Linked DNA regions of Homo sapiens. The protein of the gene in region 1 interacts with the protein of each later gene in a pairwise test. Each region holds a gene or a part of one and is shown on either strand. Other genes may lie near its edges. The genes, in order: PCDHGC3 and HGD.

Region 1 (3,814 bases):
GTCAGAGATTTGGAGGTGACCAAACTATCTGACACTCTAACAAGTCCTGTCTCCTCTGGCAGATGGAAAGCTATAGGCTCTGCCAGATGCCAGGGTGCCCTTATGTGTGAGGAAACTACAATAGTAAAAAACACAAGTTTCTCCAACTCCAGGAGCTTTTATTCAAAATATATCAATGCCTAACTCTGCTCCTAGGACTGTATTTTGAAACACCCCCAGGTGATTTTGATAGCTGATTGAGAGAAACTTACTATATAACTCCTTTGAGAACCTCATCTCATTTGCTCTTCCCACCATTGCTGTTGGCTAGGTACTAACATGCCTCTCTTATAACAGCTTCACAGAGGTCAAGTGACTTGCTCAAGTTCACAGAGCAAGTAAGAGAGATTCTAACCCCTGTCTAACTCCAGAATGTGTGCTTTTAATTTCTTGGCACTTGGAACTTTAAAAGCTTGAGGACAGGAGAGGGGAGTTGCCTCTGCTGGGATTTTGCTTCTGCTGGGATGGGGCAAGGGTGGGGTTCCTTCCCTTTTAGGACCTTACATGTGGGGAAAGTCTTCTGTGGCTCCTCATTTCTGAGCAGTCCCCGCAGCGCAAACTTGGCCAGTTATCCTTTTGGAGATTGAGTTCCCCCAGCTCCGTTTCCTCCTATCACAATCACTGCATTTCCATGTAGATTCTGCTGTGTCTAAGAATACAGTGGCTGAGGGCTGGCCATCCCTGTGCCCTTCTCCATGGCAGCCCCAGAATGGTGCTGGTGACTCCCGATACACCTGGAATGCTAGGTTTCTGGGTTCTGCTCATATCACTGCCACCTGTGAGCCTTGAGTGAGCCACTGGCAGTTCCGGAGCTTCCTTCTCCCTGGAGTAATCTGAGATACTCACACTCTCTGCTTCTGGGAGCAAGTATGAGTATTAATTACCAGCCCACCCCAGAACCAGTGAGGAGGTGGCTCTAGGAGTGCTCCATGAGAGTGTGTGATGGGATAACACACCCCCTGGAAAGACCAGAAGGGACTCAGGAATGAAGTGGCTGGCCAGAGCCCCACACCTTCAGCTAGGTGGGAGATGGCTACACATCAGCCCCTTGGGAGCCCTGGAGACTTAGTTGGCCCTGCTTGGAGGCTGTGGGAGCTGGATCCCTCCCCGCTGCATCCCTTCCATTTTTCTCCGTCTCAGACAGAGCAGCCTTGTTCTCTTCTCCTTAGTCACAGACCATTGTCTGGCACGGAGTTCTAGGGGTGAGAAGTGTCCCGGGACTTGGATGCCCCGCAAAGGCCCAATCTGGCATGACTCCTAAATTAATAATGTATTTAGCTGTGGGAAGAGATTCTTGCAAGCCAAGGGCCCAGAGAAGATGTCCCTGTGAATGTGTCACTGCACAACCTGGCACCAAAAGGGTTACCAAGAACAGCAGCCATCTTGCTGCAGAGGATGCTTTGTTCCCAGCTGAGGAGTTGAATAAATTCATTCTAGGGCTGGTAGAATTCTCATTGAAAAGCCTCCTTTGCCACTTTAGGGGGCTTTGTCTGCACCTCTTCCCCCAGTTCCACAGAAGATGCCTTCAGTCCTTGAATTTTGGCTCAGGAGTTCTGACTCTGGGGGCAGGGAGGAAGGGGCCATTTCTTTAGGAAAGGAGTCTCAGCTTGCTCACTGTGGTCAGATGAAATGTGATTTATCTCTTGGTTTCTGGTACCTCAGACCTCTGAGACCTGAGGTGTATTTTGTCTTTGGAGATGAGTCCACCCCTGCCCCCTCTTAGTCCGTTTTCTTCTCTGTGCCCACTCCCCTCCTTCTCTCCCGGCCCATCCCTAGGGGCTCGGGTGACATTCTAACTTCTCACGGGTACTCAGCCCCTTTCCCTCTGTTTTCTCCACAGCAAGCCCCGCCCAACACGGACTGGCGTTTCTCTCAGGCCCAGAGACCCGGCACCAGCGGGTAGGTGACTGATTCTCCAGCCCACCCTCTTCTCTGCGGCATTTTCTCAGGGATGACGTGGGAGGAGATGGGGGAGGGCCCAGCATTTGCTACAGATGGCTTCTCCCTCAGTTTGAGATCCCAGGGAGGTCTTGGTGTGCGGGGGGCTGGCACACAGACCCCGGAAGGAAGAGGCGACTGCCCTGACTGTTCAGGAAGCTCAATTCACATGCTTGCCCCTTCCCTCCTCGCCACGACCGGCACCTTTTCCTATCCCCTGAGGGCACTGTGGAACCAAAGGATGGTCTTAAGCTGGTCTCTGGGTGAAAGCGAGGCTTTCTATGCCCATGTACTGCCTAACCCCCTCCCCTGAGTTGAGCTGGGCTCCATTATGACCTGGGGCTCAGGCAGAAAAGCATTTGACCGGAGGAGGCGGTCCGCACTCAGCGCCTCCTCCAGAGCCTCCAGAGCCGAGGCTGACTGCAGCCTGGGGAGAGTGGAGGCAGCACAGCTGGAGGTGGAACTGAGGAAGGACTGGGCGGGGCATGGAGCAGGCCCCCTTCTCCGGCCCCTCCTCCCACTGTCCTCTGCCCCTACTTGTCCTGCTCTCTGTCTGTGGGGTCTCCGTGTCTCTGCCCCTTTTTCTTGAGTTTCCGTCTTTGCCACTTTCTCTTACCTCTCAGTCCTTCCCTCAGTCTCTATCTCGCTTTGCAATCTCTGCCTCTCCCTCTCTTCTCCATCTCTGTCTTAGCTTCCGTCTTGATTGCTGCACCTCAGCCTCAGTCCCTTTCATTTGTCTACTTGCATTGATCTGTGCCGCCCACTGTGCCTGCCATGGCATAAGTGCTCAATAAATGTGGAGTGAGTAACTACACGGGACCCTTAGTCTCTTTCTCCTTCTCTATCTCTGCCTCCCTGTCCTTGTCCTGGACCTCTTTTCTGTTTCTCCTTTCACCGTTTCCTAGCGCCTTGTGTTCTTCTATCCCCAGCCTCTATGTTTCTCTGTCTCTCACTATTTCTGCTTTCCTCTCTGTTCTTTGTCTCTCTTTGTCTCTGTCTCTGTATATCTTTCTTTGTCTCTGTCTCTGGTCTCTGTGCCTGTTGTCTTTTTCTGCCTCTTTCTCTGTTACTCTTTCTTTATCTCTCTTTTTCTTTTATCTTGTCTTTTTTCTCTGAGCCTCTGTCTCTGTCTCTCATTTTTTTGTGCTTGTGGGCAAGCCAGCACACACAACCCCCCACCCACCACCCACCAACACCCCGCTCTCTTCCTTCCCTGCCCCTCACACACTGAGCCTTTGATCGCAGCTCTCCACCAGACACCCTCCCATCCAAGCAGCCCCAGCTGCTCATTTCAATCTGGTATGAATTCCTGCTGAGACAGGAACCCCCTGCGGGCTGAAGGGGAGGGAAACTTCAGCAGAAAGACCTTCAGTTGGTCTGAGCAGAGTGGGATAGGCTCTGCGCCAGGCCTCCCAGTTAGAAGTCAGGAGCCTGGAGGAGTCTCAGAGCCCAGGGAGAGAAGCAGGAGCTTGGGCCACCTTACCCTACCTCCTCAATGGTTGAGTACTTGCTGTCCACATTTGCCAAGTTGCTACAGATGCTGAGCTTCCAAGAGTTATCTTTCCCCCATCCTGCAACCAACCAAACCCTTGTTGCCACAAGGACCCAGGAGCCCTTGGTGTATGGCAGAGATTCCAGCTTCTGGGCATGCACAGTCCTGTCACCCATTTTAGGAACGCAAAGCGCTTCTTAGAAGGCCCCTAAAAAGCAGCAGATCAAAAGGCTTGGGCTGCCCTTGCCCTTCCTTTGACCCCAGCTGTTGTCCTTCTCCCTGCTGGCCTTGCCAACCTTCTCATAAGTTATCCATTAAGTCATTAATGTATTCATTCGTTCATTT
Region 2 (3,814 bases), on another chromosome or scaffold:
GTCATCCAGGAATAGGATTCAGAGCTCTTCTAAGCACTTTATTTGCTCATACCTGTCCTTCTGGCAGGGAACCTGGGCAGCGAGGATCCTCTGAAGAACACTCATTCCCAAATCCAGAAATGTACTGTAGGTGACAAAGACACAAATGCCACCATTAGCAGGATTTAAAGAGCATTTCAGAAAATTGGCAGTTTACTAAGGTAAGAATTTCTATATGGACCTATGTTTGTGTATGATGTTCCACATATAATATCTTTACTGTGTCTTGACATATGAATCATTTAGGGAAGACAATATGGTTTCTGTGAATTTTAAAGACTTCTAATTAATCAGAAGAGTGCTGGATATTGCATAGACTTCTCCACCCTTAGCTGTACTTAGCTGATTTGTGGGTCTACACTGTAACCTCCCTGAACTTGAGACTCCATTTCCCTTTCAAACTCTGGGAAAAAAAAGAAAAAGCATCTATGAAGAGGTGTGTGGGTCCAACCCTGACAGCAAAACCCTCTCCAAACTAGCCTTGCTGTAGGCAGAAGCCTCTGCTATCTGCCTCATCTATGGAACACATCTATATTTGTGCGAATGCATGAAAATAAAGTTTAAAGATATGGGTGGCCTTCAGGAGACACGCCAGCCCAGCATCTTTTCACAATGACACAATGGAACCTACTCTGATTGCCATCTCTTCACTTTACACCCAGAGGAAAAAAAAAGTTAAAGGGTTTCTCAACCAGGTAAGTCATGGAGAGCCCCTGAAACTTACTCTTGCAACACTCAACACACTTGTGAGTTCTTGTGCACTGTCTGGCTTTTTTGCTAGCCTATAAGCTGCATGAAGGCTGAGACTATGGCAGTCTTGGCTCATAGAAGGTAATCAGTGGAAATTTGTCGATTGATTGAATTTTTCCCTTAAAGCCAATTCTAATGTAAGTGTATGTGTGCTGCTGTAAATAGGGTTAGAACCCTTTTTGCTCTAACTTAAATACCAATTGATTTTAGCCCAGGATAATGAAAATGCAGTCTTGCTCAGCAAGCGAAATGTAACCATCTGAACACAGCTCCTTAAGAGATATAAGAAGGGTGGAAGTGGGTGAAGGGTAGGCCCTCCAGAGTTCTCAGTTGTTGCGGGAAGTCTGGGACTCCAAACGGAGGGATCAGCTGAAGCCATGGCAGAAGTTCGTGGATTGTGAAGATTTCATGGACATTTATTAGTTCCCCAAATTAATACTTTTGTAATTTCTTATGCCTGTCTTTACTGCAATCTCTAAACATAAATTGTAAAGATTTCATGGACACTTATCACTTCCCCAGTCAATATCCTTGTGATTTATGCCTGTCTTTACTTTAATCTCTTAATCCTGTCAGCTGAGGAGGATGTATATTGCCTCAGGACCCTGTAATAATTGCATTAACTGCACAAATTGTACAGCATGTGTGTTTGAGCAACATGAAATGTGGACACCTTGAAAAAAGAACAGGATAACAGCAATTGTTCAGGGAATAAGAGAGATAACCTTAAACTCTGACTGCTGGTGAGCCAGGCAGAACAGAGCCATATTTCTCTTCTTTCAAAAGCAAATGGGAGAAATATCGCTGAATTCTTTTTCTCAGCATGGAACATCCCTGAGAAAGAGAATACGAGCCAGGAGGTATAGGCTTATAAACAGCCCCCCTCCAGGTGCGCCTGTCTCTTATGGTCGAGACTGCAGGGGTGAAATAGACCCCAGTCTCCCACAGCGCTCCCAGGCTTATTAGGAAGAGGAAATTCCCGCCTAATAAATTTTGGTCAGACCAGTTGATCCTAAAAACCCTGTCTCCTGATAAGATGTTATCAATGACAATGGTGCCCGAAACTTCATTAGCAATTTTAATTTCGCCTCGGTCCTGTGGTCCTGTGATCTCACCCTGCCTCCACTTGCCTTGTGATATTCTATTACCTTGTAAAGTACTTGATGTCTGTGACCCACACCTATTTGCACACTGCCTCCCCATTTGAAAATCCCTAATACAAACTTGCTGGTTTTTGTGGCTTGTGGGGCATCACGGAACCTACCGAAATGTGATGCCTCCCCCGGATGCCCGGCTTTAAAATTTCTCTCTTTTGTACTCTGTCCCTTTATTTCTAAAGTTGGCCGACGCTTAGGGAAAATAGAAAAGAACCTACGTGAATATTGGGGCAGGTTCCCTGATACTCAGTGGCGTGGAGATGTAACAAGCCTGGATGTGTGAGTGATGATCAGGCCAACAACAGTCTGTATTTGGAAGAAATATCAGATGTGAATGTTATGACCTAGGAAGCAATGGAAGTGAAAAATTATTCTTTTTGCCTTCAGACTCAATATTTTGTATATTTGAAAATTTGTCAACACAAAAAATACTAAGTTGTATACTGATTTGTTAAAAGCAGCAGCATGCAGTTAGGATGATATCTTTGGGGAAATGGCAGAGACCATCCAACATTCTGATTCTCCACTGCATCCAATTTTCTACTCTCAAAATGAACCCCATGCTCACCATCAACGGGATTGAATTTGAGCTGCTGAGAATTGGTAATAACCCCAAATTATCTTCAATTCTGTGAAATGGAATTTTAGACCAGCCTGTGACTGAAGCCACTGGGCATTACAGTGCCTTCGCTTTGTTCAACTGCCGCATTGTTTCTCTCTGCAAGAGAGGAAGGAAGGCTGGAGTACAGCTGAGCTTTCTGGCAGGCACTGGTGGAGTTACTCATTAACCTTCCCCATTCTTTGTAACTGGTGGCCTTAGAAGAGGGTTCAGGGTTATGTGTTTGGAACACGAGTTAGTATAAATGGTTCTGAAGCACTTGATTCAGACTGTGCTTTAAAAAATAGGAAAGAAAGTAGAAAGAACAGCTGATGGTTTGGAAGGGAGCCACCAAGCACCAAGAGGTGTGAGTTCTGAATCCGTTTCTCAATCTTAGCTGCAGGGCATTGGCTAAAGAGGAAGGTGAAAACTGCTGAGTCACTATCAAATCAATTGGTTTTTCTAATCCCCTGAGAGAAAAAGTACAGAGTTTATTGCAGCTTTAAAATGCCATGCCCCTCACGGCCAAAGGCATCTGAATTAAGGAAGCAGTATTCACAGCTGCTTTCTCCAGACATTGAGCTCAAGGACAGAATCTGAACTCTGCTTTTATCAGCTGCGAAAATCCAAGCATTCATTTCCAGCTGGTTCAGTGCCTATGTAAAAGTATACTGTGTACAAAAATAAGATTAAAAAGCTAACATTAAGCAAGTGTGTTTGTATGTTTTCTACAGTTCGGATTTCTGAATAATTTGATCCGACAGAAAAATATGATTTCATTTCTTTTCGAGAGAATTATATGCATACTTTCTAAATGCAAGAATAAATTCCTGAGCTCCATGTGACTTCAGTACCATCAGCTCTTTGGCAGCTTATGAGTATACAGCTTTTTAATTCTCACCTGGTCCCCAGGATATGGTTTACTTGTCAGAGTAGTTTTATGAGGTGCTTTCTCCTGACTCTGATTCTAGGTAACACCTGATGAGATGAACAGATGGTGCACCTCACTTCCTCTTACTGGGCATGAAGGAAAGAGAGAGAAGTCAGGGTAGAGATGAAACTACTGCTACATTTTTTTTTTCTGTGGAAAAAGAGTCTAATATTTCTAATTAACCTTGATGGGAACATAGAACATAGATTGTAAAGGGAACTTGCACATTATCGCAGTAGGCTGAATAATGGCTAATGGCTCACTCTGAAAGATATGTATGGCTTAACCCCTGAAACCTGTGAGTATTATCTTTTCTAGCCAAACAGACTTTTGCATATA

Evidence for each region.
Region 2: the proteins of PCDHGC3 (region 1) and HGD interact in a two-hybrid assay, tested with the Homo sapiens proteins (one large-scale study listed by BioGRID and IntAct).

What each region holds. Positions count from the first base shown.
Region 1 is NC_000005.10:141,492,928-141,496,741, forward strand, and holds part of PCDHGC3 (protocadherin gamma-C3 isoform 1 precursor), read left to right. Parts: intron 1-1,879; coding exon 1,880-1,938; intron 1,939-3,814. Other genes in the region: PCDHGA1 (protocadherin gamma-A1 isoform 1 precursor), read left to right, coding at 1,880-1,938; PCDHGA2 (protocadherin gamma-A2 isoform 1 precursor), read left to right, coding at 1,880-1,938; PCDHGA3 (protocadherin gamma-A3 isoform 1 precursor), read left to right, coding at 1,880-1,938; PCDHGB1 (protocadherin gamma-B1 isoform 1 precursor), read left to right, coding at 1,880-1,938; PCDHGA4 (protocadherin gamma-A4 isoform 1 precursor), read left to right, coding at 1,880-1,938; PCDHGB2 (protocadherin gamma-B2 isoform 1 precursor), read left to right, coding at 1,880-1,938; PCDHGA5 (protocadherin gamma-A5 isoform 1 precursor), read left to right, coding at 1,880-1,938; PCDHGB3 (protocadherin gamma-B3 isoform 1 precursor), read left to right, coding at 1,880-1,938; PCDHGA6 (protocadherin gamma-A6 isoform 1 precursor), read left to right, coding at 1,880-1,938; PCDHGA7 (protocadherin gamma-A7 isoform 1 precursor), read left to right, coding at 1,880-1,938; and 11 more. UniProt on the Homo sapiens protein: Potential calcium-dependent cell-adhesion protein. May be involved in the establishment and maintenance of specific neuronal connections in the brain.
Region 2 is NC_000003.12:120,675,740-120,679,553, forward strand, and holds part of HGD (homogentisate 1,2-dioxygenase), read right to left. Parts: intron 2,256-3,814; exon of another isoform or gene 2,165-2,255; intron 125-2,164; coding exon 53-124; intron 1-52. UniProt on the Homo sapiens protein: Catalyzes the conversion of homogentisate to maleylacetoacetate.